Regions from separate parts of the Homo sapiens genome. Here all the other regions are linked to region 2. The links come from fine-mapping of genetic effects on gene expression. A gene starts in region 2. Each other region holds a variant in brackets. All regions are shown on one strand. Distances are between the middles of the regions. Region 1 overlaps TMEM51-AS1 (TMEM51 antisense RNA 1). Region 2 holds the start of TMEM51-AS1 (TMEM51 antisense RNA 1). Region 3 overlaps KAZN (kazrin, periplakin interacting protein).

Region 1 (10,302 bases), 20 kb after region 2:
ATCATTTGTGCGCATGGCTTTGGCACCCAGGAGCATTCATTTCTGCCAGGCATGCACACAGGAGTGTTTCCAAGCCTTGTAGTCATTCTACTTGAAAATGCTCCAAGATAAGGCAAAAGGGACCTAGTGTGTGTCCCTCACCTCCCCACCCCATACCCACTCTAGACCAGGCTCTGGGCTCCAGGCATGGGAGCTGAGAGGCAGAAAGAAGAGAGAGGGCACCACGCCGCAGCAGCCACATTCAGAAGAAGATGTAAAAACCCCTCTTGCCAGGTGGGTGTGGTGGCTCATGCCAGTAATTCCAACACTTTGGGAGGCCAAGGTGGCTGGGTCACCTGAGGTCAGGAGTTCAAGACCAGTCTGGCCAACATGGAGAAACCCCGTCTCCACCAAAAATACAAAAATCAGCTGGGCGCAGTGGCAGGCGCCTGTAATCCCAGCTACTTGGGAGGCTGAGGCAGGAGAATCACTTGAACCTGGGAGGCGGAGGTTGCAGTGAGCCGAGATTGCCCCGTTGCACTCCAGCCTGGGTGACACAGTGAGACTCTGTCTTAAAAACAAACAAACAAATAAACAAACCCTCTTGCCAACAGCACTTCCGCTTTTAAAAAGGTCATCTGGTCTTTTGCTGGAAATGTGTGCATGAGAGGTTTTCTGAGCCTTGGGAGAAGGTTCCCTTCCCGATGGTGCCTGTTGACCTGAGATGATCTAGTCTAATCTTCCCATTTTACAGGTAGGAACTGGTGTCCAGGGAAGGGAAGTGATGCTTCCAAAGCCACACAGCTGGTAAATGACAGGGTCAGGAACACCAAGTGCCTTAGCTTCCAGTGGCTTTGTGTGGGGAAAAGAAAGAGAGATCAGATTGTTACTGGGTCTGTGTAGAAAGAAGTAGACATAGGAGACTCCATTTTGTTCTGTACTAAGAGAAATTCTTCTGCCTTCAGATGCTGTTAATCTGTAACCTTACCCCCAACCCTGTGCTCCCTGAAACATGTGCTGTGTCCACTCAGGGTTAAATGGATTAAGGGCTGTGCAAGGTGTGCTTTGTTAAACAGATGCTTGAAGGCAGCATGCTTGTTAAGAGTCATCACCACTCCCTAATCTCAGGTACCCAGGGACACAAAACACTGCGGAAGGCCGCAGGGACCTCTGCCTAGGAAAGCCAGGTATTGTCCAAGGTTTCTCCCCATGTGATAGTCTGAAATATGGCCTTGTGGGAAGGGAAAGACCTGACCGTCCCCCAGCCCGACACCCATAAAGGGTCTGTGCTGAGGCGGATTAGTAAAAGAGGAAGGAACGCTTCTTTGCAGTTGAGACAAGAGGAAGGCATCTGTCCCTGGGCGATGGAATGTCTCAGTATAAAACCCGATTGTATGTTCCATCTACTGAGATAGGGAAAAACCGCCTTAGGGCTGGAGGTGGGACAGGCGGGCAGCAATACTGCTCTTCAAGGCATTGAGATGTTTATGTGTATGCATATCTAAAGCACAGCACTTAATTCTTTACCTTGTCTATGATGCAGAGAACTTTGTTCACGTGTTTACCTGCTGACCTTCTCTCCGCTATTATCCTATGACCCTGCCACATCCCCCTCTCTGAGAAACACCCAAGAATGATGAATAAATACTAAGGGAACTCAGAGGCCGGCGGGGATCCTCTGTCTGCTGAACGCCGGTCCCCTGGGCCCCCTTTTCTCTTTCTCTATACTTTGTCTCTGTGTCTCTTTCTTTTCCAAGTCTCTCGTTCCACCTAACGAGAAACACCCACAGGTGTGGAGGGGCAACCCACCCCTTCAGCTTTGTCTGTAAATTGGGAGGAACAATTAGATGCATTGATCTTCCCCAGAGATAATTGGGCTACCTTGGAGCCATTGTCATCAATGTTTAGGGTTTTCTAGTAACCATTCTTCCATGGTTTTTGGATGCAAGCTTTTATTTTTTAAATTTATTCTTTTTTCAACTTTTAGATTCAGCAGGTACATGTGCAGGTTTGTTACAAAGGTATATTGCGTGACGCTGAGGTTTGGGGTTTGATGGAACCCGTCACCCAGGTAGTGAGCGTGGTACCTAACAGATCGGTTTCAACCCCTGCTCCCGTCTCTCTCTCCTCCCTCATAGCCTCCAGTGTCTGTTGTTTCCATCTTTATGTCCATGTGTAGATGCCAGATGTCACATTTACTCTATTCAACATTCAAGAGACCATTTTGAGGCCGGGCGCAGTGGCTCACGCCTGTAATCCCAGCACTTTGGGAGGCCAAGGTGGGTGGGCAGATCACTTGAGGTCAGGAGTTCAAGACCAGTCTGGCCAACATGGTGAAACACTGTGTCTACTAAAAATACAAAAAATTAGCCAGGTGTGGTGGCAGGCGCCTGTAATCCTAGCTACTCGGGAGGCTGAGGCAGGAGAATCACTTAAACCCAGGAAGCAGAGGCTGCAGCGAGCTGAGATTGTACCACTGCACTCCAGCCTGGGGGACAGAGCAAGACTCCATCTCAAAAAAAAAAAAAGTCAATGTCCTTATGGTAATCTATAATGCCCTACTGATGCCCTCTGCCTGCCTCACTTCTCTGACCTCAGCTCCTACCCCCCTCCCACTCACCTCACTCCAGCCAAAAGGTCCTCCTCAATGTTCTTCAGCCCGGACCCCAGTGCCTCTGACCCCAGGGCCTTTGCATTTGCTGTTCCCTCTGCCCAGAATAGGATATCAAACAGTGTCATCTTAGACGAGATCTCTCTCCAGCTCTTGGCTTCACCTCTTCTGTACTGTCTTATTCTTAGGCAGCCTCTCTTTTTCATTGTGGTGCCTCTGGCTCCTCCAGGCTGTCATCCTCCAAGGGGAAAAGAGAGTATTTCTCTTGGCCAATAGTTCAATATAAGTCCTGGAATGGAATCGTATTGGCTCTGATGAGGTCACATGCTCATTGCTGACCCAATCTCCAGGGACAGGCAGGAGAATGGAACACGAAGCTCCCATGCTTCACTGAAACCACAGGGTTCCACGTGGAATACGGGGAGGGAACAGGTGGGCTGAACTTGCAGCTATGATCCAATACTAATGGTGACAATAAAAATGATAACAACAATAATAGTAGTGGCAGCCAGCATTAACACAGTGCTTGCTCTGGTCTCAGCAGCAGGAAGGCGGGAAAACATCTGAGACCTGGGCCAGATGCACCTGTCAAGGTGTCTTAGGAAACTCTTACCTTGGGTGTGCAGTTGGGCTGAGAAAGCAGTGATATCCAATCTTGTCCACATGTTAGCAGCTTCTTTTAAAGAATAACTGTGGGACCCACCTCAAACCAATTGAATAGGAACCTTCTGGGGTGGAAAGGAACTCTAACATTAGGGTTTTTAAACTCTCCAGGTACTTCAAACATGCCTTGGCTCTGTATATTAGTCCGTTCTCACGTGGCTATAAGGACATACCCAATACTGGGTAATTTATAAAGGAAAGAGGTTTAACTGACTCACAGTACAGCATGGCTGGGGAGACCTTAGGAAACTTACAATCATGGTAGAAGGGGAAACAAACACGTCCTTCTTCACAGGGTGGCAGGAAGGAGAATGAGAGCTGAGTGAAGGGAAAAGACCCTTATAAAACCATCAGATCTCATGAAAACTTACTATCATAAGAATGGTATGGGGGAAACCACTCCCATGATTCAATTACCTCCCACTGGGTCCCTCCCATGGCACGTGGGGATTATGGAAACTACAATTCTAGTTGAGATTTGGGTGGGGACACAGCCAAACCATATCACTCTGGTACTAAAAACCAGCTAGCTCATTGGGGCTGGGGTGTGCTATCTGCAGTTTCAGCAACCACCCAGGTGATTCTCCTGCTCATTTATAGCTTGAGGGTCTCTGCACAAGGGCCTTACTTCCCATAATTGCTTGGCACCCTGAGGTCAACAGATAAGGCTGGTCCTGACCAGAAGTGACCTGCTGGTCACATGAGATCACCTGCTAGTCACCTGAGGGCTGAAAGAATAAACATCTCAGGCACCTCGTGACCATTCTGCAGGGGGAGCTTGATGCAAGGTCTCTTGTATGAGTCTAAGAATCTTTAAAATTGCCCTGTTCGCTTTAGAAGGACCCCAGTTTTATTTCTTGATGTTCTCATTTTCCTATGAAATTAGTAGTATCTTTCATTCCTGGAGGAAAAAACTAGTCCTTGCCCCTTGTGTTAAAAATTATTTCTCTCCTCCCAGGTATGCAGTTCTACAGACAAATGGAGATTCTTTAATAGCAGGGCTGCCTGGGGGAGAAAAAGTTATTCTGGCCTTATTTACCCAATGGCATTTCAATTGACAATGAACACGAATGCCCTGATTGTTGTTTTGTGGGTTCTGGCCAGTCCACACCGGAGCTGGTTACATTTCAAAAGTTTCTTGATAGGTGGGTGCCTGGGAATTAAAATATATTTCCTTGGCCTGGTGTGGCTGGTCACACCTGTAACCTCACACTTTGGGAGGCCGAGAGGGGAGGATAGCTTGAGGCCAGGAGTTTGAGACCAGCCTGGGCATAGAAAGACCCCATCTCTACAAATTGTGTGTGTGTGTGTGTGTGTGTGTGTGTGTGTGTGTGTGTGTGTGTGTATTTTTTTTTTCTTCTTATAGTGACAGTGTTATCAAAACCAAGGTGGTTTTCCAACTTAGCCCACAAATATCTATTCAACTCATATAATTGTAGAAAGTAACCTGGGTGCAGTGGCTTACACCTGTAATCTCAGCACTTTGGGAGGCCAAAGCAGTGGATCATCTGAGGTCAGGAGTTTGAAACCAGCCTGGCCAACATGGTGAAACCCTGTCGCTACTAAAAATACAAAAATTAGCTGGACGTGGTGGCATGTGCCTGTAATCCCAGTTACTCAGGAGGCTGAGGCAGGAGAATCGCTTGAACCCGGGAGGCAGAGGTTGCAGTGAGCGAAATCTCATCACTGCTCTCCAGCCTGGGTGACAGAGCAAGACTCTGTCTTGAAAAAAAAAAAAAAGTACTATCACAACATGAGTAAGTTTTCACTTATGTAACTCATCTAAGATTTTAGATGGGAAAATGTAAAAACTGATTCCAGAGTTAATAGAACTTGTGTTGTTGGAAAAATGTTCACATCTCCCTCTTAACCCAAATGTTGGCCCGGAGTGTCTGTGTCTGGGTGCTGTGCTGTGAGGGCCGGGGGTCACCATCCTGGGCAACGGCTTCGTGCAGACACCTGCTCAGTCAGGC[T/C]GGAGGCCCCAGCAGCCAACCAGCTGCTGTTTCTCAGTCTGGTCACTGCCCAGACCAAAGCAAGGACAAGAGAGGGGACAGGTGCTCTTGGGAGATGCAGTTGAGAGCAGGGATGTGCTTAGCTGGGGCTGCACCCTGGCAGGCACAGACTTGCTTTGAGATATTGCATTTTATCTTGAACAAATTCATGCCACCTTTGCATTCTACCCAACAAAACTCTCACATTTGCGGGGCACAGTGGCACACGCCTATAGTCCTAGCTACTCGGGAGGCTGAGGCGGCAGGATTGCTTGAGCCCAGGAGTTCAAATCTAGCCTGGGCAACATAGTAAGACCTTGTTTCTAGAAAAACCAAACCAAAACGATTTGTTTTATTATATACAGCTTAACCCTTCTGTGCCTCAGTTTCTTCATCTGTAAAAGAGTGAAAATAGCAACACCTGCCTTGTAGGGTTGCTGTGAGGACCGAATACATTTCATTATATTTAATGAACTTAGAATAATGCCTGTCACCTAGTAAGCACTACACAAGGTTAACTATTACTATTATCAATGTTGTCACTATTATTCATCTCATTAACTTACTAGTTGTCTGGAATCAGTTGCCTGGGAGTGGCCCCTACTCTGGTTTTCAACACAACACACTCTTAAGAGCCAACTGCACACTCTGGGGGAGGAAGGGCAATGTTTCTGCAAATTGTTGTTCCCTTGGCATATTAGTTATCTATTCCCATGTTACAAATTATGCCAAAACGTAGTGGTTCTGTGAAAAACAGTATGTATTATTTCATAGGTTCTGTGAGTCAGGATGAAAGCTGGTGCTCCTGGTTCAAGGTCTGGCACAGGCTGCAGTCAAGATGCCTAACAGGCTGCATTATCCCGAGGGTCAACTGGGGAGGGACCTGCTTCCAGGCTTACCCACGTGGTTGTTGGTAGAACTCAGCTCCTTGCAGGCTGTTGGCCAGAGACCACTTTAGTTCCTGGTCAAATGGGTCTCTTTATGGGATGGCTTACAACTTGGCAGCTGGCCTTATCAATGCAAGCAAATAAGGAGACACACACACACACACACACACACACAGAGAGAGAGACAGAGAGCGAGCACGCCCACACATACACAAGCAAGATGGAGGTCACAGTCTTTCATAACCTAATCTCAGGAGTGACAGCCCATCATTTTTACTGGATTCTATTCTTAGAAGCAAGACATGACCAAGGAGAGGGGACTTCACAAAAGGTGGGGTCATTGGGAGCCATTTAGAAGCTGCCTGGTCTGTTGGGGGCACAACACCTTGAGATCATGGGCATTAGAACCAAGTTTGATGCCAACTTTTAAAAAATTTTATTATTGGATCTTGAATTCCTAGCCTCAAGTGATCCTCCTGCCTTGGCCTCCCAAAGTGCTGGGATTACAAGGATGAACTGCCATGTCTGGCCCAATGTGAGCTGTTTCTCTTACCTAGTGTTAAAATAAAATGGGAGGCCATTAGGCTGAGGTGGCTCCCATGCCCTGGGATTCTATATAAACAAGGTGAAGCTTAACCTTAGCCAATCATAAAAGACCAGCTAAGCATTAATTACATGATCAGGAACTTTCCACCAGGATCATCTAAATAAGGCAACTGCCCAAACCTTAACCAATCAAATAATTTCTTTATTTTCCACATTCCTTATTTAATTTATCTGATTTTCCTCTTTACTCTATCAAAGCCCTTCCTTCAAACTCCTCTGGAGGAGCCCTGAACCACCTTCGATTTGGTGCTGCCCAGTTCATGAATTGCTGTTTGCTCAAATAAACTCTTTAACTTTTTAATGTGCCACCATTTATCTTTTAACACCAGCAGTGTGAGTCCCACACGTTGCTCTATCTCACCCAGCCTCGTCCCTGAGGATCAAATGTTACCTACCTTGATGAGCCACCTTGCCCAGTGTGTGAGTTTCCCGTGGCTGCTGTAGGAGATTGCCACAAACTTGGTGGCTTATTCTTGCACGGTTCAGTGGCCAGAAATATGACATGGGACTCACTGGGCTAAAATCAAGGTGTCAGCAGGGCTGTGTCCCTTTCAGGAGGCTCTAGGGAGAATCCGTTCCCTTGTCCTTTCCAGCAGTGAGAGGCTGCCGGCACTCCTTGGTCTGTGGCGCCTTCCTCCATCTCCACAGCCAGGAATGGAAGTTGAGTCTTTCTCATGTTGCACCGTTCTGACCTTTTCAGTAGCCACACTTACCTCTGACCCACTTCTTTCTCCTCCTTCACCCAGCGTTAAGGATCCCTGTGGCTACATAGGGCCCCCTGGATAATCTAATCTAGATATTCTTCCTATTTTTAGGTCAACTGATGAGCAGCACTCATCTCACCTGCAACCTTAGCTCCCTCTGCCATGTAAAGTATCACAGTCACGGGTTCTAGGAACCAGAGTGTGGGCCTCTGGGGACCCATCATTCTGGTGACCATGGAGTCCTTCCTTGAATCAGTTTTCATGTGACCCAAGGGCCTCCCCTTTCTCACAGGCCACACCTGGCTGCCTGATTGTCCCTGGCAGGGGGGTCCTGGCACCCAGAGGAGGAGGCGCTCCCCATATGCCCAGGGGCCAGGAGGGAGGCTCATTAATCGTGTAGGAACATGAAGAGGAGGCAGGCGGCTGGACAAAGTGATGTTCAGGGTCTTGCTTCGAGGTTCCCACGTGTGTGTCTGACTCCCTGGGGCTGCCCACGTGGTCCTGTGGTCCTGTGGTTTTACTCCAGGAGGCCACCTGCCTGCCACCCCTCAGAGGAAGGGAAAAAGCTGCCGTTTCACGTTGGAGCTGCACGCACAGAGGAAGACCTCCTGCCTGGCATCAGGCCATTCCTCAACTCATCTCCTGCTGGGTGGTCTATCGTCCTCACAGCGTGCTGGGCTCAGGATCTGGGCCTCCTGGCTGGAAGGGAATCTGGGTGGCTTAACAGGTTTTATTTGTCCTGAGGCCAGCTTTCAAATTTTGCCGACCCCACTGATGTTTCTGGCATCCTGTGGAGGAAAGAAAACAAAAGCCATTTCCCCCCCAAAAGCCACCTTTTGGGATTGCAGACAGCTGGCAGGGATGGTGGGGGGCCCTGCCCACCTGAAACTTTGTCTACTGGGCCTGGATCTCTGAGTGGCCTAGGCTGCTTTGGTCCTTCTTGAGCTGAGCTGGGCTAGGCTGGTGAGGGGCGTATTGTCCTGCCATCTAGTGGCGAGTTCTGGGACTGCGAGCTATAATGGCCCAGGCGCTGCCTATAGTGGAGCCATATATACCAGGGCGGTTGGTCCCAGGCCCCTGGTCATGCCACAGAATCACCAAAGGAAGTTTAAAAACTACGTAGGCTCCAGACTCACCCCACACCTAGTGAATCAGAAATCCCGAGGCCTGGAAATAAGCATTTTAACTTTAGCGTGTAGATTCCCTAGGCCCTATCTCAAAACCCTAAATTATTGGCTTTGGAGAAGGACCTAGAAATCGGAACTTTTAACAAGAGTACTCCAGTGACTCTCGTGAGCAGCTTGACTTGAACACCACCCATTCAGCTGCCCACAAGATAAATGAGGCAACTGTGGGATGTAGATTATTTTAAAAGCTGATACAATATTCGATCGTATTACTAGGAGCATAAAGTCCAGGTTAAGGGAGGATAGCAGTTAAAAACATCTGGGTTCGAATCCCTACTTTTGATACTACTAGTTATGTGACCCGGGGCCAGTGTCTTAACTTTTTCCTGCCTCTGTAAAGTGGGGATAAGAGTACCTGTCTGCCAGGATTACAGCAAGGACTCAATTAGATCTCATGTAAAGGGCACAGGGCCTGACCCTTGGGAATTGGGCCCTTCATTACGATTCCACTGCTTGGGCCTATGTGGGAGCACGGTGTCCTTATTCAGGGATGTATTTATGAGAGGATTGTCCAGAGAAGGAAGAGATGGAAGGGGAGACCATGGAAGAAGGACAAGGGGCATGGAAAAGGCTTGAGGGTCTGTAATGGGGTTGGGGGAAGGAGATGTTTTGGGAGGGAGGCATTTATGCTGCTTAAAAAAAATAACAGGCCAGGCGCGGTGGCTCACGCCTGTAATCCCAGCACTTTGGGAGGCCGAGGCGGGCAGATCACCTGAAGTCAGGAGTTCGAGCCCAGTCTGGCCAACATGGCGAAACCCTGTCTCTACTAAAAATACAAAAATTAGCCGGGTGTGGTGGCTCATGCCTGTCATCCCAGCTACTCAGGGGGCTGAGGCATGAGAATCACTTGAACCCAGGAGGCAGAGGTTGCAGTGAGCCAAGATCGTGCCACTGCACTTCAGCCTGGGTGACAGAGCAAGACTCTGTCTCCCCAAAACAAAACAAATAACAGAGGGTCAACGTGGAAGAGGGACCAGGAGGCAGAGTGATAGAAAGTCCCCATGAGCAACTGGAACTAAGAAGGGCACAGGCAGACTCATGGTACAGTGAGCTCACAGCCACAGGAGACTGCAGGCCGATGCTGCATGAGGAATCTGTTGGGTGCCATAAAGCAGTGGTTCCCAACTGTGGCACTTATGTCCCTCATGGAGTGTGACCTGATTTGGGGGACATGCAGGTGAGCATTTGCAGGAATATTTATTTGTATATTTATGTGCATACTTGGCACATAGAGGCACACATATCCGTACCCACATCTATGTATTAGAAAACAGAGCCAGCGTCTTAGGCCTGTGGTTACACAGACACAGGCAGTGATGTCAGGTCTGGCCCGATTTAAAATAGGCAGCTATTATGCCAATAATAGTAGAGCTGGTTGTGGATGTGGTTGGAATAGTCAGGGTGGTCTTGGGGAACCCAGCCATAGAGGAACTTTCTGCTTGGGTTTGGAGACTGATGTCAGTGACATGGACTGGCTTTCCTGTGAGTGAGGACTCCACCCCAGGGCCTTCACTCTTGTGTCACCAAGAGGGTGTCGGCAAAGTTGCCGTTTTTAACAAGCCAGTCTGAAGCCTCTGGTGACCTCGATGCTGGAGTTTGTTGGGTTAAGTGACCACAAAACCAAATGAACCTGCCCACCTAACACGTGTCTCCTGGAGTCTTTCACTCTTGCTT
Region 2 (10,302 bases):
AAGGGCCCTAGAAGGGAGTCAGGAGGGCTGGGTTCCAGTCCCAGTTCTGCTGCTGAACTGTTGTGTGTCCTTGGGTAAGTCCCATCCCCTCTCTGAGTTTTGTTTGTCAAATGAGAATGATGTCTCTGATGACCTGAAGGTCCCCTCCACCTGAGACATTCTAGGACCTTCCTTTTCCCTCCAAGCAAAGGGAGACTTGAAGCATGGAGAAGGATATTCTCACAGCTTTCGCTGCAAGAGGAGGATTCCTCCCAGCTTCAGAGCAGAAACAAAAGTGAAAGCAAAAGTCAGCAGCCCCCATACCACATCCCAAGTCAGAAGACACCTGAGCTTCTGAAACTTTCCCAGCACCGAGGGAGACAATGCTTCTCTTTTGCATGACTCCCACCTTAATTTGGGGCTGGGGGAAGAGAATCCACACTAAAGCTCCTCACACTCTGGCCTCTTCCAGCCCAAGAAGCCTGAGGGGTTTACAGCCAGGCCTGCAGAGGGAGGGAGGAACGTTGACCAGAAACACAACCTATTAAAACGGGAGCCCCAGAAGCTCCAGCTGGCCTCTGCCTCCAGCTTTCCCATCCCTCACGCAGACAGAGAAACTCCCAGGCCTCGTGACATCTGGAGCCAGCGAGCCGGAGAGTCGCAGCTGGAGGGGCTTGGGTCCTGCCAATACCCCAGACACTCACTCACTACTTCTCTCTGGCAGGGGACCAGGCTGGCAGTTTGGGCCTCATGTAGAACCCCAGAATCTTACCCTTGACCAACAGTCATGAGTGAAGGCCACACATTACTCTCTGCTTCCTGTATGGGCCTCTCCTCCAGCTCCCCCATTCATTCCCACTGCCCCCACCAACCCACAGGCCAGCCTCTCTCTCCTAGGAGTCTTCTCTAGGATCCTCGCCAACTTCCAGGCAGCCAGGATTATCTTCTTAACATATGGATGGGATCAGACGACTTCCCTGCTTAGAGAACTTGAATGAAAGGGACGTCTTTCTCCATGTTGTTCATCTTTGTTGAGCACCTAGAACAGCGCCTGGCCCACAGAAGGTGCTCGGCCAACATATGTTGAATGATTCCAAGAAAGCCCCCACCTGTCCAGTCCAGCTCACTCCGGACCTTCCATTCCCTTTACTTTTCCACACCCTCCACTGCCTGAGCACCTTCCCCAGCCCAGCACACCCCAGGCACTCTCCTGTCGCTGTGCCTTTGCCTGTGCTGTTCGATCTGCCCAGACACCCTTCCTCCCCTGTTCCCTGGGGGGACTCCAGTTCCCTGATGAATATTCTAATACTCTTTTCTTAGCAGGACCTCCTGAGTTATTTCCTTTCTTCTGTTCTCGTCTAAGCCCTGTGACATAACTTACTATAGAATACTTCATGTGCTAGGCATAAATACCCCACCTCGCCCTTGGAGATCATCATCCCATTTTACAGATGAAGAAGCTGAGGCTCAGAGAGGTCAGGTCACACAGCCAGCAAGTGGTGTGGCCTGACTGTATCGCCAATTCTGCAACACTTTTCATGAGTATCCCTGACTCCCTCACTAGGCTGGGGGCTCCCTGAGGCTTCTGGGCTCTGGGTCACTGGGGCAGGCCCCAGACACCCCATCAGAGAGCTGTCAGCTCCGAAGCCGTGAGGAGCAGGTTCACCACTAGCCTCCTCTCTCTTTCTTTGGCCTTTTCTCCCAGTCTGGGGGTACCTCTCAATTGGTGGAGTGAGATATTTGGAGGGGCAGGGGCTCTGTCCCAATAGGTCAGGATCCTCTTGTGACAGGTTTCCGGGGTGTGAAAGCTGTTCACGGTCCCAGGGCCAACAGTTCCCTAGACAAGCTGTTCTCCGGGTAACCCATTCAAAAGGAAAGCCAGAAGCCGGCCGGTCCTAGAGGGGAAAGCCTTCCACCCGCTGACTTACCTCCCGGTTCGGGTCCCTGCCCCGCCCACCTCGTCCCCGCCCACCCCACTCCGGCAGCGCCCGGGTTCCCAGCAGCCAGACCTCCCCTGCTGTTGGGAAGGACCCGCAGTCCCATGCACCGTCACAGGCACCTCGGAGCGCTGCGCAGGACACCCCACGGGCTGCTCCCTGGGGAAACCGTGGGGGAGGGGCCAGGTCTCTCGCCCCCACCGCTGGTTGGGAAAGAGACCATTATCCTGTAATGCAGACCAGGCGCGCCGGGCCAAGCGCCTCCCGTTTGTGCGCTGATTTGAGATCTGATTTGTACTCTGCTCTCCCCTAGGCCCGGTAACGTAACTTACCGCTGAGTGCTTGCTGGGTGCTGGGCATGAATGCCCCGCCGCACCCTGGGACGTTGTCATGTCAGTTTCACAGATGAAGAAACCGACGCGCTCAGGGAAGGACTCGAGTTTCAATCCACTTTGCTCATGCCCGATTCTTTACCCCCGTGTTTGCTTGTAGAGCGACACACACACATACACACACACGAATCTAAATCCCTAAAAGGCCCCGACTTCCATACAGTAAGGGATGCGCGAGCAAAGCGCCAAGGTGGTTTCCTGGGACCTACTGGGAAGTTCTGCTCCTAACCACGCGCTGAAAGCGCTTCTGGCGAAGCCAAGGGTTCGAAGCCCGCCGGGCGGATAGCACCTGTTCCCGCCAACAGGGGGCCCCCAAGGCCAGCTGCCTTCCCCAGCCGAGGCCAGCTGGCCAGGCGCGGTGCCCGGGAGGCGGGAGCGTCCCGCGCCGGCGGGGCGCGGCCGCAGAGGGTGCGGGGTGCGGAGTCCTCCCGGTGGTCGACCCCAGGCGGGAAGCGCTCGGCGGACAGACGGACGGACAGGAGACCCAAACGGGCCTCGGCCCCCTTACACGGCCCTGTGGGGAACCGACAGCGCGCCGCGGGAAGCAGCGGGCGCAAGGCGCGGCGGCTGAGACTCACCCGGGAGGCGGCGGGTCCGGCTCCGTCTCGGCTGGGCGGTCCGGGACTGCGGGCTTCGCGACCCCCGCGCCCCACCCGGGCGGCCTCCTCGGTGGGCGCCGCGATCGCGGGGCTGGGGTTCGGGGGATTCTTAGCCGAGGGAACGCAGTGGTGGAGAGGGCGCACTGCCCTCTCAGGGACCGGGTTGGGGACGCAGGAAGCGCGGCCTGGGAGCGCCGGCGTGCGGGAGGGAGGGACCGCGGGAGGCGGAGGGCGGTGCCGGCCAGGAGCGGCCTCCAGCCCGGAGAAGCACCGCCCACCGGCCGACCCTCCCTCCCGGCCCTCGGCACCACCCCCGGGCCCGAGGCGAGGGATCGCAGCTGAGCGAGGCGGGCACCCACTCCCCAGCGTATGCCGCTGGAGCGCGCTGAGCGTGTGCCGGGGGCTGGGCCTAAGTTCTCCCCAACCCTTGCCAGCCGAGTTGGATAAGAGGGGGTCGGGAGAAAATAGAGCCCTGATCCCCCCTCCTCCCTAGGGCCCAGAGAATCGGTGTGCATGCGTGTGTGCGCGCACGCGCGTGTGTGTGACGGGTGGTGGTCGGGGAATGTCTCAAGCTAGAAGTCCCAGGTTTTAGGGGTTTAAGTGGAGCTGGGAGACCCGCTTTCCTCCCACACCAGGCGCAGACGCCGAGGCACAGCTCCGCCAGCCGCCCCGCCTTTACCTGGCGGGATACTCACCTCTCCTCCTTCCTGGGGAGGCCACCGCCTCCCTCTCCCCCTTCTGCCCTGGGCTGGTTCCCAGCGAGGTGAGTGACCGGCACAAGTAGGGAAGGAGGAAGCGAGTTTTTAAAAACTGAGTCAGCTCACGCCCTCGGCCAGGGTCCCCACCCGATGCGTGGTCCCCAGGGCGCCCTCGGGATCGCACGCCCGAGTCCCGGCCCAGGTGGGGCCCATTCCGGGTTCTTGCGCGCGGGCAATGGATGGGGGCGCGCTGCACCGGGAGCCTGCCCTGCTGAGGGCTCATCCCCAGCTTTGCCGAGAACTTTCCCGGCGAGGCACCGGCTGGCGTTTTCCCAGCCTGCGAGTGGCAGGCGGGCAGCCAGTCTCTGCTCGGATCCACGGAGGCCCGGAGCCGCCACGGAGTTCTGGCTCCGGGGAGTGCAAACCCGAAGTCGGCGCGGAAGCCTCTCACCCGCGGCTCTGCCTCCGCCCCTTGGAGATCTGCCCTCGGAACTGCGTTGCTCTGGCGCCCGAACTAGGGTGGGCTGGTTTCAGCCAGACCGCCAAAAAACGTGGATGCTAAACACAGAGGGAAGAGCCAGCTCCCATTCCCTCTCTGAGCCTTAGATTTTTTTGAATTCCGAGAGAGGTCAGGCCGGGGTCCCCTTCTTGGGTGAGCGTCCAGCCCTTTGAAGTTCAAACACTGAGAAGCCGATAGGCAGCTGGCTGGCGTCACAGGATCGAGCCGAGGACTGAAGGCGCCTCCTACCGGGAATCCACCGCCTCCAGACGAAAATAGGCTGCAATCAAGTTCACTTCCAAAGGCGGAATTCATGGGTACATATGGTGTCCACGTGTGTACACCTGCAGAGTTGTAACATGCGGGCATTTCTCCCCTCAGCCCGCCATTCTGGCTTCTTAACTTGCACCCTAACAGCTCGACAGAACCTTGGCGTCCACAAAAAGGCAAGTTTGGGTCTGCCTTATGATTTGGGGGTGGGAAGGCATTTGGGGAAACAGTCTCCATGTCTATGACAGCAACTGCTATTCCTCACATCCTTGCTATGAACCAGGGGCGGGGTTACCACCCACATCCCCTGAACCATCTCATTTAATCCTCATAACCTAGGAGGCGGTTATTTGTTATGCCCACTTTATAGAAGAGAAGGCTGAGGCTTAAGGAGGTGAGGTCATTTTGCCCAGTGAAAACACAGCTGGGAAGTATCAGGATCTAGACCCAAGATGATCCACTCCAGAGCTTCTGCTCTCCCTCCCATAGCATAATTCCTCCTGTCTGCACATACTCTCCACCCTGAGAGAATGTTCACCTTGCCTGGCCACCTGCAAATGCGGAATAAACATTTGTTGGATGAATGAAAGCCCTAAATAATAACCCATGATTTTAGTGAATAGGGAGGACCCTTTGTGTAGGCAGGTACCTATAATAATATGCTCCCATTTAAGAGCTGTGCGTATTCATCCCAAAGTTTAGACAATGCATGTGGGGACCTTCCCAGGCTCCAAAGGAGTGACAGGAAACAGTCACGTAGCTCTCAGATAAGACCAGGAATCTGGTTTTCATTTGACTCTGCAAGATGGACTTTGGAGAGGCCTGGGGTGGGGGCGGGGGGTGATCATGTCAGAACAGCTGTCCCAGCTCCTAATCTGAAGACAAAGAGCTGCTGTACTTTTCCATGCCAGGGTCATCCCAGACCCGCCCCACTCTGCTGCAGACTCAACTGGGCAGGTCTTGTTTATCACAGGATATCATCTTCAGAGTGTTCCATTTAAGCAGGCTCACCCTGGCTGATCTGGGGAGAGACTGACGAAATTCTCAGGCAAAGCTGAGGCCCAGGCAAAACTGAAGAAGCTACCAAAGGAAGCATGCCTCTCCTTATCCTCCTCTCCTCCACAGCCCTCTCCCTCTACATGGTTAGTTTCTCTGAATCTTCCCTACCATTTATTGAACCCTGTGTTTCACGTGCACTGCATACATTGTGTTCTTTGGTTTTCAAAACAGCCCTAGAAGGAAGATTCTATTATTCTAGTTTTTCAGATGAGGCTGTTAAGACTCAGAGAAGTTAGGTACCTGGATCTGCTAGCAAGTGACAAAGTATTTGAATCTGGGGTCTTTGCAGGGCCCTTGCTCTAAATCACTAAGCTAGGAACCCCCTTCTGTGATAGGCAGAATAATGGCTGCCCAAAGATGTTCACAACCTGATCCCCAGAACTGGTTACTTTACGTGGCAAAAGGGACTTTGCAGATGGGATCAAGTTAAAGATGTTGGGACGGGGAGGTTATCCTTGATTTTCCTGGTGGGTCCAATGTTGTCAAAAGGGTTCCTACAAGAGGGAAGCGGGAGGGTCAGAGTTAGAGAGGGAGATGTGGTGATAGAAGTAGAGATCAGAATGATACAGTTGCTGGACAAGGGTCAGTAGCCAAGGAATGTGGGCAGCCTCTAGGAGCTAGAAAAGGAAAGGAATGGAGTGTCAGCCAGAGCATCCAGAAGGAGCTCTTGGCATCCACAAAAAGGCAAGTTTGGGTCTGCCTTATGATTTGAAGGTGGGAAGGCATTTGCAGATCCGTTTTGGACATCTGACCTCCAGAACTGTAAGAAGATAGTTCACTGTGTTGTTCTAAGCCATGAAGTTTGGGTCAATTTGTCACAGCAGCGGGAGGAAACTAATACATCCTGCAAACTCAGTCACCTAGGCAGATGTTCACTTCACCTGCTTTTTTGGCTAACTGTCCACTGTAAACTTCTGAAGAGGCACCATGATCTAGCCTACATCACGGATTTAGAAAGAAGGCAGGATTCCATCACCTTTGTCTTTGGTTTCTGAATCCTCTGCTATTTGTGAGTTGTGTGACCCTGGGCAGATGTCTTGTCCTCTCTGAGCCTCAGTTTCCTCATGTGTCAAAAAAAAATTATTAGCATTTCTATGCTAATAATACCTATTTTCCAGGACCAACTCGGGGATCAGGTGAACTAGTATGTGACAAAGTACCCAGTGTGGCCTGAACATGAGTTGTGGGAGCATTAGCCTGTCTAGTTCTGAAAGCCTGAATTCAAAGAGGAGAGGATGCTGTTCTGAGAATTCCCGTGGCATTACATTTTTATTCTTTCTGGCTGAATGGGTAAATAACGACAGTTTTAAAATATTCGACTGTCCCTGGTTAGTGACCAAGACCCCAGTCTGTCATGCTACTGACTTTCCAGGCACATCAATGAAAGTGAGGCTGGAAAATCAGCTTATAGAAATAGATCATCATGCAGAACAACTCACACATGTGCTCAGGAACAGAACGTCCAAGGGTTTTCATTGCTGATTAATTGTAACGGTGAAAAGTGGTCACCAACCTCAATGCCCAGCACTAGGAGCTATGCTAAGTAAATTGTGGCATAGACTCATGCTGGCACACTATGAAGTCACCAGAAAGAATGAGGTAGAGCTATCTGACATGGAAGAACGTCCAAGTTATATCATTCACCGAGAAAGGCACTAAATATGATGATACTACACAAACCACTTTTTTTATTTTTTATTTTTTTGAGACAGAGTGTCTGTCACCTAGGCTGGAGTGCAGTGGTGCAGAGGTTGCACTACAACCTCTGACTTCTCGGTTCAAGCAATTTTCCTGCCTCAGCCTCTCGAGTAGCTGGGATTACAGGCGTACACCACCACGCCCAGCTAATTTTTTGTATTTTTAGTAGAGATGGGGTTTCACAATGTTGGCCAGGCTGGTCTTGAACTCCTGACCTCAAGTGATCTACCCGCCTCAGCCTCCCAAAGTGCTGGGATTACAGGCATGAGCCACCATGCCTGGCTCACAAATGACTTTTTAAAAAGATGTAGACACACATACATATATTTGATTATGTACAGAAAGACTATGGGAGGAATCAAACCAAACAGGTTACCCTTAGAAACTGAGGGGGGGTGTGTGTGTGTTGGGGAGGTAATTTTATTTTTTAGTGAGAATGTGTTAATAATAAAGTTGGCTGGAAACCACCTGTATTGTCCACCAGGAGCATATCCTCCTATTATCTGTCCCTGTATCCTCCCTTGCTTGCTCTGTTCTCTGCCATCTGTCATTCTTTACCCTTGCTTGGTTCTGAGCAGGTCACTCTCTCTTCCCACTGACTTTTTTTTTCAGACAGGATCTTTCTCTGTCACCCAGGCTGTGGTGCAATGGCATAATCTCTGCTTACTGCAGCCTCCACTTCCTGGACTCGAGTGATTCTTCCATCTCAGCCTCCTGAGTAGCTGGGACTACAGGCATGCACCACCACACCTGGCTAAGTTTTAAATTTTAAATTTTTTTGTAGAGATGGGGGTCTTGCTACGTTACCCAGGCTGGTCTCAAAATCCTGGGCTTAAGTGATCCACCTGCCTTGGCCTCCCAAAGTGCTAGGATCACAGGTGTCAGCCACCGCGCCCAGCCCCCACTTACTCTTAATGTGGGCTTATTTCTAAACCTGTGAGGAGCTGAGCAGTGTCTCTGCTGTATGACTCTTGCCAAAGTCAGCAGTAAATCACGTATGTGCACTTTCAACCTGGCCTTTTCCTGAAACGGTGCACATTAGTCACCGGGAAGGGATGTGTCTTGCGTGTAGGTTTCACTGGTGATATACTGGCCCAGCCCCACTGAAGGCTGAATCAGGTCTGTGTGGCAGACAAATTGTGCTCACGTAGCGCAAAGCAAAATTGGATAGTTGGACCATTAGTTTAAATAAAACAGTTTTGTCCCGTTTGCTGAAAAATGTTGATTCTGGAAATGTGTTTCTATCTGAGTTACCAGTGTAACTGGACCTGTGTAGACAGCCCAGAATGAAGCTTCTGAGGACATCGTCGCATTGGGGTACAAGTTCTTGAGACCCCTGAGAACAGCCAGCTAGCAATTCTACCTCCCTATCACCCCATCTCCTCTTGTGCTCCAGCTTGTAGAAACTTCCCTCTAAGCCTCAGCATGATTGCAGTTCATCTGGCTGCTTCCTAACTGGTGTCCTGCTCCCAAACCCTCCCCCTTTAATCCATTCTCTGTATTGTAAAGTCAGCAATTCAGTGGGTCCCCGTTGTCCCCTCATGCAGTCCAGCCTTCTCTGCAAGGACATGTGGGACTTCCTAAGGGGGTGGGCCCTTCTCACAAGCTCAGCCTCATTACTCGTCATCCCTTGGGCTCCATGCTCTCTCATCTTCCCGTGGGTCTCTTTTTCATCAGCGACGAAACCTTTCCCAGAAGCTCCCAGTAAACTTCCTTGATACCTCCTTTGCCGGAACTGGGTCATATGCCTGTCACTGGCAAGGACGCTCAAAATGGGCATAGGCTCTCAGGATTCACCTGGAGTCACCTGGGGGTTGGTGAAGACACCTGAACCAAATGGAGGCTTTGACAACAGAAACAATGCCAATGGCTGTCAGAAGACCCCAGCAGGTCCCTGCAGCAGGTAACCTCGAGCCCAGGGAAGCTGCCATGTTGGACTGGCACACACTGAAGCAGGAAAGCCAACTGCAGAGGGAGCAGGAGAAAGAAGCAAGCCTCCACTTGCTGGGCTCAAGTGATTCTTCCATCTCAGCCTCCTGAGTAGCTGGGACTACAGGCATGCACCACCACACCTGGCTAATTTTTAATTTTTTTTTTTGTAGAGATGGGGTTCTTGCTACGTTACCTAGGCTGGTCTCAAAATCCTGGGCCTAAGTGATCTACCTGCCTTGGCCTCCCAAAGTGCTAGGATCACTGGTGTGAGCCACCGCGCCAGTCCCCACTTACTCTTAATGTGTAATCCAGGAGGCCTGGATTACTGCTGGCCCTCCTGTTCTGTTTTTCCCAGGAATTTCCTTTCCTGATGAGTTTCTGTTTCTTGAAATAAAAGGACACTAAGAGAGTCCCTTTGAAGCTTCGACAAGCAGCTGAGGAGTAATGCCAGAGGCCAGGCATGGGTGCCCTGACCTTCTGCTAGTTAACTAACTGCTCAAGGGCCCTGTGTGATGGGATTCCAAGGAAATCCACTCACCCCTTGGATAAGCCAATGACAACAATAATAGCAGCCAACCGTCATACAGTGCTGACCAGGGCCAGGCAGTCTGCTACACACTGTACAAGGCCTGCTGCATTTGATCAGGCTCGTCACCACATGAGGAAGGTACTATATTTCCCCTTTTCACAGATGGGGAAACTGAAACAGAGAGGTTAAATGACCTGACCATGAACACCGAGCTGGCAAAGCTGGGGTCTGGGCATGGACCCAGGCTGCCTGGAGGCTGTGTTCTTGCAGCTTCTCTACCCTGGCTCTCATAGAACTGGTTGCTTGTGACACCCTTCAGATGGGACTTCTTGATCCAGGTTTGGAGAATGGGTCATAAACCTGGGGACAGAGGGGCCCAAAGGGAGAAGCAATGACAGTATCTTCCACACCTGCCACGGTCCTGGTTGCCCGCGTACTCCGCCTTGCTGCTGTAGTGTGATAATATTTCACTTGATGAAAGTTTTTTTTCCTCCCTTTTGTTCTTTCCAGACAGTGGCTCTTCTTCCTTTAGGGGAAGCCTCATCCAGCAGAAAAGCAGAGATGCTTTTGAGTTTCAAGAACCAATACTTTGGCATTACAAGAGCCTGGGCTTTGAGTTTCAAAAGTAGAAGTCCCAGAGGCTTCTAGGAATAAAATTTGTGGCATTAACAAGACATCCTGAAGACTGAGCACGATGCAAAAGTCATTTC
Region 3 (10,052 bases), 36 kb after region 2:
GGCTGAAAACAGGCATCTTGGGCAGATTCTACCTGACACCTTAGTTGGCAGCCAATCAGTTGTGCCCTGGCTACCCTAGTGCCACCTCATGGGTCCCTTGCATTGGGCTGTAGCCTGATAAATCTGATTTAGCCATGAGCCAGAGCAAAGGGAAAGAGCGAACCATTTGCAGAAGGCGGGGCCTCATGTCCAGGTGTAGCACTTAGGAAGCACTAATTGCATCTGGGATGACACAGATGTACGGGAGCCAGGTCGAGGGTCCTGGGAGGGGGCAGAGGCCCAGCAGAGGATCTGCCTGGTGCCCCTTCTTTACCCTCAGGAGATGGTACCCTCACCCCCAGCACTCCAGCCTCAGGGGGTCCTTTGTAGCCGTGGGGCTCTGCCCCTCCTGCCACAGGACCTTTGCACACTGTTCATCCTGTCTAGAATCCTCTCCACCTGCTGAACTCCCCTCCACCCAGGCCTCACCTTCTCTTTTCTACATTAAATCCCCCATGTGAAAAGATATGAAAAGCCCTCTGACTACCAGCTACCTCTGCTGTCAAGACTTACTACAGTTGGCTGGGTGTGGTGGCTCACACCTGTAACCCCAGCACTCTGGGAGGCCAATGTTGAGGGGGATTGCTTGAGCTCAGGAGTTCAAGATCAGCCTGGCAACATAGTGAAAGCTCTACAAAAAAAAAATTAATCAGGTGTGGTGACATGACCGTAGTCCCAGCCACTCGGGAGGCTGAGGTGGGAGGATTGCTCGAGCCCAGCAGATTGAGGCTGCAGTGAGCTATGATCCTGCCACTGCACTCCAGCTTGGGTGACAGAGCAAGACTTCATCTCAAAAAAAAAAAGAAAAAAAAAAAAGACAGACCACAGTGACACTTGGCGGAGTATTTAATTCATGTCTGTCTTTCCCACCAAGAGGGTAGTGGTTGGGCAGGATTTTTTCACCATTACGTCCCAGCATCTAGCTCAGGGACTGCCTGCCTGCCTGGGATGGTCTTCCCCCAGATCTTTGCAGGGCTGGCTCCTCAGAATTTAGGTCTCAGCTCAAAAATCCTCAAGGATCCCCCGCACTCTACTTGAAGTCCCGATCACACTTGTCACTATCTGAAATCAATCACCCTGGCCACTGGTGTGTTTCTTACCTCCTTTCATGACCTGTGTAAGTTCTGCCACTGGATCCCCACCACCAAGGACCAGCCCTGGCTCCCAGGTGGATTGAACAATACAGTATCTGTGGTCAGCCTAGAGAAACTGGCCATCCCCAGTCTATCTTTCAGCGTCTTCTAACTTTTCTTGTCTCCTCCCCATTTAATACACACTTCCAGAGTGCTCAGCCCCTGCCGACATGAGCAATGGGCAGCGCGTCCAGCTGGGTTCCTGCCCCATGAGAAGCACACAGCCTGGTTTGGTAGGTGGGGCTCCATCAGGGCTGTTTGGATACCTGGGTGGAGCCCACAGACCAGCCCCCACCTTGTGTGGTTAGGGCTTTGCTAGGAAGGCCCATCTGTGCGCCATGACCTTGGAACTCGATGTGAGATCCCTGGACCGGCAGCAGCACCTGGAAGCTTGTTGGAAATGCTGATCTCAGGTGGGACTCCAGAATTCCCGCATCTGCACCTGCACTCCCAAAATACCTCCCCACCAGGTGATCCGAGGCCATGGGGCGGTCTGAAGGGCACTGTGCTGGGGCGTCCCACCACTAGAAATCCAGTCCGGTAATCTGAAGATGTAAGTGCCCCCAGGAGGAGTGACGGAGTGACACAAATGACACAAGGGGAGGGGACTTGTCAGGTGTCCACTCCTGACTGCAAGTTCCCAGGGCAGAAGGCAATGCCCCCACAGGGACTTTTCCAGACACTCCGAGTGCACCTGAATTGCATTTTGAGTGATGCTGCCTGCTAAGGTAAATCCTATGCTGGGAGGTGGGGGGAGGGGGGTTTGCCAACATTGCAGGGGGGTGAGGGTTGGGAGAGTGTGTAATTGTGAGGATGATCCTGGGATTTGGAGGCAGATGGACTGGGTTTGAGTCCCTGCCCTGGGATGTCTTAGCTTTACAGAGCTGGGCAAGGCCCTCCACCTTTCTGATCTCAGCTTCTCCATCTGTGAAATGGGTTCAAAATCTCACAAAGAGGCTGCTGGGAACACTAAATGAGAAAACACAGAAAAAAGCCCCCTCTGCCATAAAGTGCTGTGCAGTAGTATTTATTGTTACAGTGTTAAAATTCACTCTCGGGGAAGCGATTTGGGGCCACGGCCCTAGAAACTGCATCTTTGTTCAGAGCCAACCCATTTCCTCTGCAGCCACAAAATGCCTTTGTGTGTCAGGGCTCGGGAGATTCTCCTCGCTGGCCAGCCATTGGCAAGAATGCCAGACTCAGAGGTTGCCATTGCCCACAGGCTTTCTTCTCCTTTCCTTTCACAGCAGGAAGAGCCCTCCGGAGCCTCGAAAAGCAGAGTGGAAGTGGTGGTGCCCAGGACGCATGGGCTCTGATGGGAAGAGGGAGGTGGGCCTGAGCATGGGCCTTCTTCTCCCCAGGTCAGAGGGGCCTGGATGCCCCTGGAGGGAACACTGAGGTCACCTCTGGCCAAATCTTCCTGTTCTGCCAGTACCCAGCCCTGTTCAGTGACGTCAAGCTTTTGGGTCCCTGTCCTGGGGCCCTCCACGCTGGCCGGGCTGTGTAGAGACGCCCTTCTCTCCACTTTATTGGGTCCAGATTGTTGTGTGGCTTCTCCCCTCCTCTGCAGCCTGGGGTCTGAAAACAGCGATGCCAACAGACAGACAGATTTCCAAAAGAAAGGTCCGGCTCAGCCAAGGACAAAGGGGCCTCGCAGAGGCTCCTGGGGGTCAGAAAGCTGAGAGTCTACCAGGCAGGTGCCTTCTCCACCCACAGGCACAAGCTACAACAGCTTTCCAAGAAGTGCATCCACATCGTCCCCAGGTCCAGATGCCCACATTGCCCTGCAGGGACCAAGACCACACTCGGGCTGCTTGGACAGGATGTAGCTGGTCACTGTTCTGGAGCTGGCCCCTCTGTAGCCTGTGACAATCAGCTTGAGTCTCTCTGCCAAGTCTCCGCCTTCTGTTCTTCTTGCCGACCTTGAAGCAGAGTTGACGTTTCAGGTTTTTCCAGCAGACAAAGCTCACTCAATCTGATACTGTGGAGGTTGTTAATTTAACAACCAACCCATCCTCATGTTGAGAAACCAGCTCCAAATGCTCACCTGGCTGTCAGGGATGGGGAGCCTCATGGGTGAAAGAGGGTTGTGATGGCATAATTTAAACCAAAAGAGGCATTCGCGGTTGCCCGTGTTGCCTCAGGCCTGCTGGCCTCCTGCTGTGAACATTTTGGGCAATACTGTCTCTGCCAGTGACCCCCAATTGTCCACTTGTCTCCAGCAAGATCGAACCATGTAAGTGCCATTTCTGACAAGTTGGGTGAACGTTGGTTTCAAATCATCAGCTCTGCATTCAAGTGCCCTGCTACAATTCTGGCTCACTCTGTGGGAATAACTGCCTGCCTGGGCACGTTGCTGTTGCTGCCTCCCAAACGGCAGTTTCTGGGGTCCCAGGTCATCCAGGCTGGATGTGGCTTGGGAGAGACCTGTGGCACCAGGTTGGAGGGAGGTCTCACCTCTCCTTTCTGAGCTGTGGACTGCAGCTTCAGGACCCTATGGATGAGGCCGAATGTCATGAAGATAATGGAATTTGGAGTCTCAACAAAGCCAAGCCACATGCCAGAGATTCACCACCTGGGGCCCAGGATCAGAAGTGTGCCCTTAGGAGGCCAAACATCCACCTGTCTACCAACTAGACATTTGGTCTCAGACAGCAAGAAAGGCTGCGTTTATGTCATTAGGGGGAACACCACGGTCTTCGGCATGAGAGAGGTGTAATTCTCAAGTTCATCAGAGCTCGGCTTCCCCCATGAGAGGAAACAATTTGCCAGGTTGAAGAACACACGCTTTGAGGGTTCTCAGAGGCTGACACCTGTTGTGAATCTTGGAAACTCAAGCCCCAGTGCAAACGGCCTTGAAGGAGGTCGAGCATCATGGTTCCAACAAGTGACTCGCTTTGATAACCCGATGTGTAAGCAGAATCGCAATGCATCCGTCCTTCCCTAATCATCACGTGGCTGTCATCTGGTCAATGAACTGAGGCCCGAAGGCTTGAGTCAAACTGGTTTTCAAGGCTGTGCTCATGGGATTTATATGTTTCTTGAGCCCTGTTGGAGGCTCTTGGCAGGTCTGAACATTAAACATTTCTTTTCTTCCTTTTGCACACTGCTTCAACCTAAAGAGTTGGAGCGAACTAGCTCTATATCATTTCTGTGTTGTAAATGGGAAATTAGCTACCCCATAACTTCCCATTGTCTCCTGAGAGGTTACAAATTGTGTTACAGATATTAGCAAGTGTTAATCCTCACGATGTCCCTGGGAGGGAACCAGAAGTATCGTAGATGAAGACATCGAGGCACAGAGAGGTGAGGCCACTGGGAAGAAGCCACACAGCATAACAGTGGCAGGTCAAGAAAAGGGCTGGGGTTCTCCCCACCAATACCAAATGATTTTGCTCTGTGGAGTTTGTGTCTCGGTTAGGACATTGGTGAGCTATGTCACCTATGTTTCAGGTGACAGGGACATCACAACAAAGGTTTGTTGGGTTAACAATGTCAAGCATTTCCCTGCCCCAGACCCCAAACTCATTGCCACACTCCATACCACTGTCACGGAGTGCAGATAGTGGGGTTTGGAATCTCAGTAAAGCCAAACCACAGGCCAGAGATTCACCATATGGGGCCGTCGGTCATCCCCGATCCTGTTGTCCCAATAGCTTTCATTCTGGTGATAGGATATCTGCATCTCCTAGAAATGTGGCTGCTAAGCCCCACTCCTGCACGGATCATTCACCGGCTCCCCACTCAGCGTAGCCACTCCTGGGTGGATCGGCAAACAGCTCTTCAATACGTCCACCCCCATGTGTCACAGAGCTTTTCAGGTGGAAGGATTTTGCATTCTCCCAAGAGAGATTCAGTGAGCCAAGTCAGGACCCAAGTTCTCAGTCAAGGGTAAGATGCTGTAGCCGAGAGTTCCCCAACCCCCGCCCTGTCCGACGTCTCGGCAAGAGGCAGCACTTCCTGCACCCGGCTCTGCCAATGCACTGGGCGCTGGGGTGTGGGGTTGGGGTCCCCCCTGCTCCCGCCGGAAGGGTGTTTTAGGGAACTGTGGGCCTC[C/T]TCCCACCTTGGCAGCTCCGTTTAAGGCTCCAGGGACTGCTTGGCTGCTCCACAGTGACGGTCACTCTGAGGTGGAGCCTGTGTATCCTGGATGGAGGCAGGGCCGGACACTGTGACAGGTCCTCTGGGCCCATCTCCAGCTGAACAGGAAAGTCCATGGCCCACCCAAGACAGGTGGGCTGGTGTCTTCTCTCTCCTGGGCGCTGTGGAGCTGAAACCGCAGAGTCCATCGGGATTTTGCCCAGGAGCAAGGGACATCCTCAGCCTGCGGCCGCTATGTACAGTGAGAACGACACCTGGGGCCATCTGGCTTCTCTTCCTTCCTGGGTCTCTCACGTTGGGTCTGGTGGAGCCACCAGTTCCTTACACGTTGGTGACCTCCAGGCTGTTGTAGCCTTCCAGACGGCACTGTTCCAGCCTGCTCTGGGGGTCATCGTCTCCGCAATCTTCGTTTTGAAGAGAGCCATAGTCATCATGGAAATCGGGATCTTTGCTGCTGAAGCCCCTTCCTATCTTCCCCAGGGGCAGCTGAGAAGAGAAGAATATGATCAAAGGACAGGAAGAAGAGAAACAAGAATTAAGAATGAAGGTCTGGGAAATGTCTCCAATTCTAATTGCTCTGTGATTGAGTAACTTACTTAACCTCTGTGTGCTCCTCCTATTAGTAATAATACTCCCTGCTCAGGGAGGTTGAGGGGAGTTTGTGAATGACCATTAGGGGAGAGCTTTGTGTCCCCCTGCCCCCGGAAGGATTCAGTTGGTTACCAAGGGTGAGGACAAATATCGTTAGTCTGATTATTCCTGATTCACAAAAGCCTCCTTCTTCCCTCCTTGGTGGGTGGAGAGTTGAGGAAGTGTGTCCTGGAGACTACCTGTGAGAATGTCTGAGCAGGCCCATGAGGTCTGACTGCACTCCCAAGTCAAGGAGGAATATTCTAGACGGCCTGGTGTGGCAGAAAGAATGCGAGTTTTGGAGACTCACAGACCCAGGTTCAGATCCCTGCTCTGCCACTTCCCAGCTGTGTGACCTTGGACAAGTCACTTCCCCTCTCTGAGCCCATTTTTCTCAGCTACAAAATGGGAATAGTAGTTTCTAACTCCCAGGTTTGTTGTAAAAAGTAAAGTCCCACCAGTCTGGCCAACATGGTGAAACCCCGCCTCTCCTAAAAATACAAAAATTAGCCGGGCGTGGTGGCGAGCTCCTGTAGTCCCTGCTACTCAGGAGGCCGAGGCATGAGAATCACTTGAACCCAGGAATCAGAGGTTGCAGTGAGCTGAGATCGTGCAACTGCACTCCAGCCTGACAGAGACCCTGTCTCAAAAAAAAAAAAGTCAAGTCCCATCTGCAAAGCACATAGCAAGTGCTTGCACCGAGTAAGTCCTTGATGTACTTGATGAATAGTGACTATTATTATCACACATAGTAGGCCTTCAAAAATACTTCTCTCTTACTGCACACATCTCTGTGTTAAAGTAGTCACATTAGTGCTTTGTAACTATTTATTTGACTGCCTTTCTTTCCAGACCAGTGTTTCCAGATCTTCTTTTTTTATTATTATTATTGCTCCCTAAGGAGACTTTTTAGACAGTTTTTTCCTAATTGCACCCCTGCTGTGAAATTGTAATGCCACAGACATACTACGCCTCTGCTTCCGTACCATATGTACATTTGTGCTTTTACATAGAAAGAATAAGAATTTTTGCCACCGCCCCCACCCCCCACCAGCGCCAAAACAAATTTTCACTCCTTTGGGGGGCAATATCAGCCCCAATTACTAGAATGCACGTTCTAGAATGGAGCTTCTTAAGGGTAAAGTGGCAATGTATTCATGTTTATGAATGAATGGGGATCATGCCTTCTTCAAATGGAAGACATTTTGGATTACCCAGTTCTGCCGTCTCTGTCTGTGCATTTCCATTGAGGAATCTGTGTCAGTTGGAGTCTGTGCAATCAGACCTGAACTGCACATGTTTTCATACTGTTTGGTTGGAGTCACCAGAGGGTTCATCTTTGCTATTGGTCAGGTCACTGAAGTCGCAAATTGAAATCAGTGATTGGGGCTCAGAGTTTGGGGCTGCGCCGGAACCCTCTGGGCAGCCTAGCTGAATGCAGGATCCCCCTCGCCCCAGAGAACTCCTTTTCCAGGAGACCAAGGTGGGTCCCAGAATCTGCAAGTTCAGTAATAGCCCCAGGTGATTCTCATGCAGGCAGGTGAGACCTGCACTTTGAGATCCAGGTGCTACTCGAAGCCCTGCGGGGGCTTTGTGCACTGTACCCAAAGCATCGTGAAGGTTCCTTGAAGGTACATCCAGGGCATCTGTCCTGGATGCCCCCGTGACCCGGCCTGGCACTCCACCTTCACAGGCCAGCACAGGAGCCACAGAGCTCCCGGGAGGAGAAAAAAAGACCTTTCCCGGGTCTGCAGGACTCACAGGTAAATCCATTGAGAGACTTACCCGGCCAGCCTTGTACTTGAGACCGCTGCTGTTCTCCTCCTTTCCTGCCCGCGTGACGCTGGAGGCCCTGCCAGGGGGCGTTCCAAAACGCTCAGCCTCCCGGATGCCTGTGGAGCTGAAGAGAGGACCATTTTGAGTCAGCAGGGGAGGCTCAGTCAGCTCCCCAGACACACACACACACACACACACACACACACACACACACACACACATTGGTGACAATGACCACAGCTGCTGAGACCGACTGATTACCTCCCACGTGCCATCCTTGTGCTCAGCACTTTATAAGCGTGATTCTCACAACATGCCTGGGGCTTGGGACTGCCAGCCCAGCATTACAGGGAAAGGAGGCCAGAGACAGCAAGCAATTTGCCCAAGACGACACAGCTGTTAGCGGCAGAATCAAGATCTGAACTCAGGCTTCTGACACTCCAAAGTCTTGATCTTAACTCTTCAGTGTACTGTGAACCTTACTGCAACAGACTCCAGATGAGAATCTCAGCATGGTAGCTAATTAGTTGTGCTTGGAGAAGCATGAGGAGTCTCCCCTGCTCTGAATTTGCAATCTGTGTCCCCCACCTGGCTTTCTGCCTGAAGCTGCCCCCATGACTCCCTTCTTTGTGCAAAAGCATGGAAGCTTCTGTTAGGATTTGGCCAACTACAGCCTGCCTGCAGGTCAAATCCAGCTGGCCGACTGATTTTATAAATAAAGTTTTATTGGAACTCAGCAGTGCCCATTTGCTTATGTGTTGTCTATGGCTGCTGTCTTGTTGCTATAAGGACAGAGTTGTAGACTTTTGACAGAGATCATATGGCTCCCAGATCGTAACATATTCACTATCTGGCCTTATACAGAAAAAGTCTGCATATCAATGCTGTGGATAAACAGATTTGGGGCAAGAGGCCCGGCCTGGAGCCAGAAGTCACCACGGAGGTAGACTCATTGAAAGAAATGAAACTTCTAGGCCGGGCATGGTGGCTCATGCCTGTAATCCCAGCACTGTGGGAGGCCAAGGCGTGTGGATCACTTGAGGCCAGGAGTTCGAGACCAGCCTGACCAACATGGCAAAACCCATCTCTACTAAAATTACAAAAAGAATTAGCTGGGCATGGTGGTGCACACCTGTAATCCCAGTTACTCGGAGGCTAAGATTGAACCTCAGGAGAATCACTTGAACCTGGGAGGTGGAGGTTGCAGTGAGCCGAGATCGTACCACTGCACTCCAGCACAAGACTCTGTTTAAAACAACAACAACAACAACAACAACAAACAACAACAACAGAACCTTCTAGCATCTTTTAAGCTGCCTCAGAGAAGTTCTTCTTCTGGGGCAAATTTTGCTGAGAAAGTTCAAGGGAGGGGAGTGGTGTGTAGGAGACAGCACTGATTGAATGGCAAATGAGCTACGTTCTCAAACTCTTGGGTTCCACAGGCTTCCACATAACAGGGAGGGCCTTGCTCAGTGGTGGGTCAGGAAATGCCCTCATGAATGGCCCCTCTGCTCCACCTGGAGGCGAAATTCCCCAGGTCCAGTGGGGAAGCAGCTGTAATTGCAGAAGCCAAAAAATGTAAACTCAGGTAGCTGGCTGTTTGCTCTCTGGCACAGAGGGGTGCTGGATCCCCCAGCTCTTGGAACACTAGCAGTCAAATAAGCCTGGGAGAGCCTCAGGGTCCCATCTCTTATTTTCACTGAAGAGACAGAAGACCAAAGAGGGGGTGTGTCTTGTCCAAAGATACACAAGACACCCAGTGGCAGGGATGGAAATTGAACTTGGGCCTCTGGGATCAAGGTCTAGACCACGGCCTTCCCACTTTGGGATTTAGGGTAGGACAGTGGTCGCACGTGTGGGCTCCACGTCAGCAGCCTGGCTCAGTGCCTTAGCGTTGGCATGGCCTGGGCCGCGTGCTGAGCAGAGTGGGGTTAATAACAGAACTTCCTCGGCAGGTCATTGTGAGGACTAAATGAGAGGATACACACACACACACACACAAACACATATGCACACACACAAACACATACACACAAACACACAAATACACACACATACATACACACACAAATACACAAACATACAAACACACACAAATACACACATACACAAATACACATGAACACATATGCGCACACACAAATACACAGACACACACAAACACACAAATACACACTACATATACACACATACACACAAACATACACACATATACAATATGCCCACACACAAATACACAAATACACACATACATATACACACACACAAACATACACACATATACACACACAAGTGCACATACACATATACATATATACACATACACAAACACACACAAACACCACCTAAACATACACACATACACAACACACATAT

The links.
Region 1: its variant is fine-mapped to the expression of TMEM51-AS1 in cerebellum (GTEx, PIP above 0.99). The same link has a PIP of 0.9 or more in cerebellar hemisphere and iPS cells.
Region 3: its variant is fine-mapped to the expression of TMEM51-AS1 in cerebellum (GTEx, PIP 0.97).

Annotation. Positions count from the first base shown.
Region 1 is chr1:15,126,831-15,137,132 of GRCh38, reverse strand. The region is part of intron 1 of TMEM51-AS1 (TMEM51 antisense RNA 1); the gene reads left to right. Among named protein-coding and RNA genes, the nearest start is that of TMEM51-AS1, 20 kb to the left of the region's middle. The variant T/C (reference allele first, on the strand shown) is at 5,227.
Region 2 is chr1:15,146,539-15,156,840 of GRCh38, reverse strand. TMEM51-AS1 (TMEM51 antisense RNA 1) reads left to right here and starts at 4,377. Exons shown (of 5, transcript NR_027136.1): 1 at 4,377-4,550. It overlaps TMEM51 (transmembrane protein 51), which reads right to left and starts at 3,094. Exons shown (of 4, transcript NM_001136218.2): 1 at 2,887-3,094. RefSeq lists enhancers at 1,589-2,250, 2,382-2,471, 2,251-2,912 and silencers at 2,622-2,801, 2,892-2,941, 3,002-3,271.
Region 3 is chr1:15,110,175-15,120,226 of GRCh38, reverse strand. It overlaps KAZN (kazrin, periplakin interacting protein), which reads right to left. Exons shown (of 15, transcript NM_201628.3): 14 at 7,686-7,800; 15 at 2,184-5,756. The coding sequence ends at 5,592. TMEM51-AS1 (TMEM51 antisense RNA 1) reads left to right here. Exons shown (of 5, transcript NR_027136.1): 4 at 1,323-1,900; 5 at 2,420-8,412. Among named protein-coding and RNA genes, the nearest start is that of TMEM51-AS1, 37 kb to the left of the region's middle. RefSeq lists enhancers at 7,205-7,783, 7,654-7,793, 7,784-8,363. The variant C/T (reference allele first, on the strand shown) is at 5,229.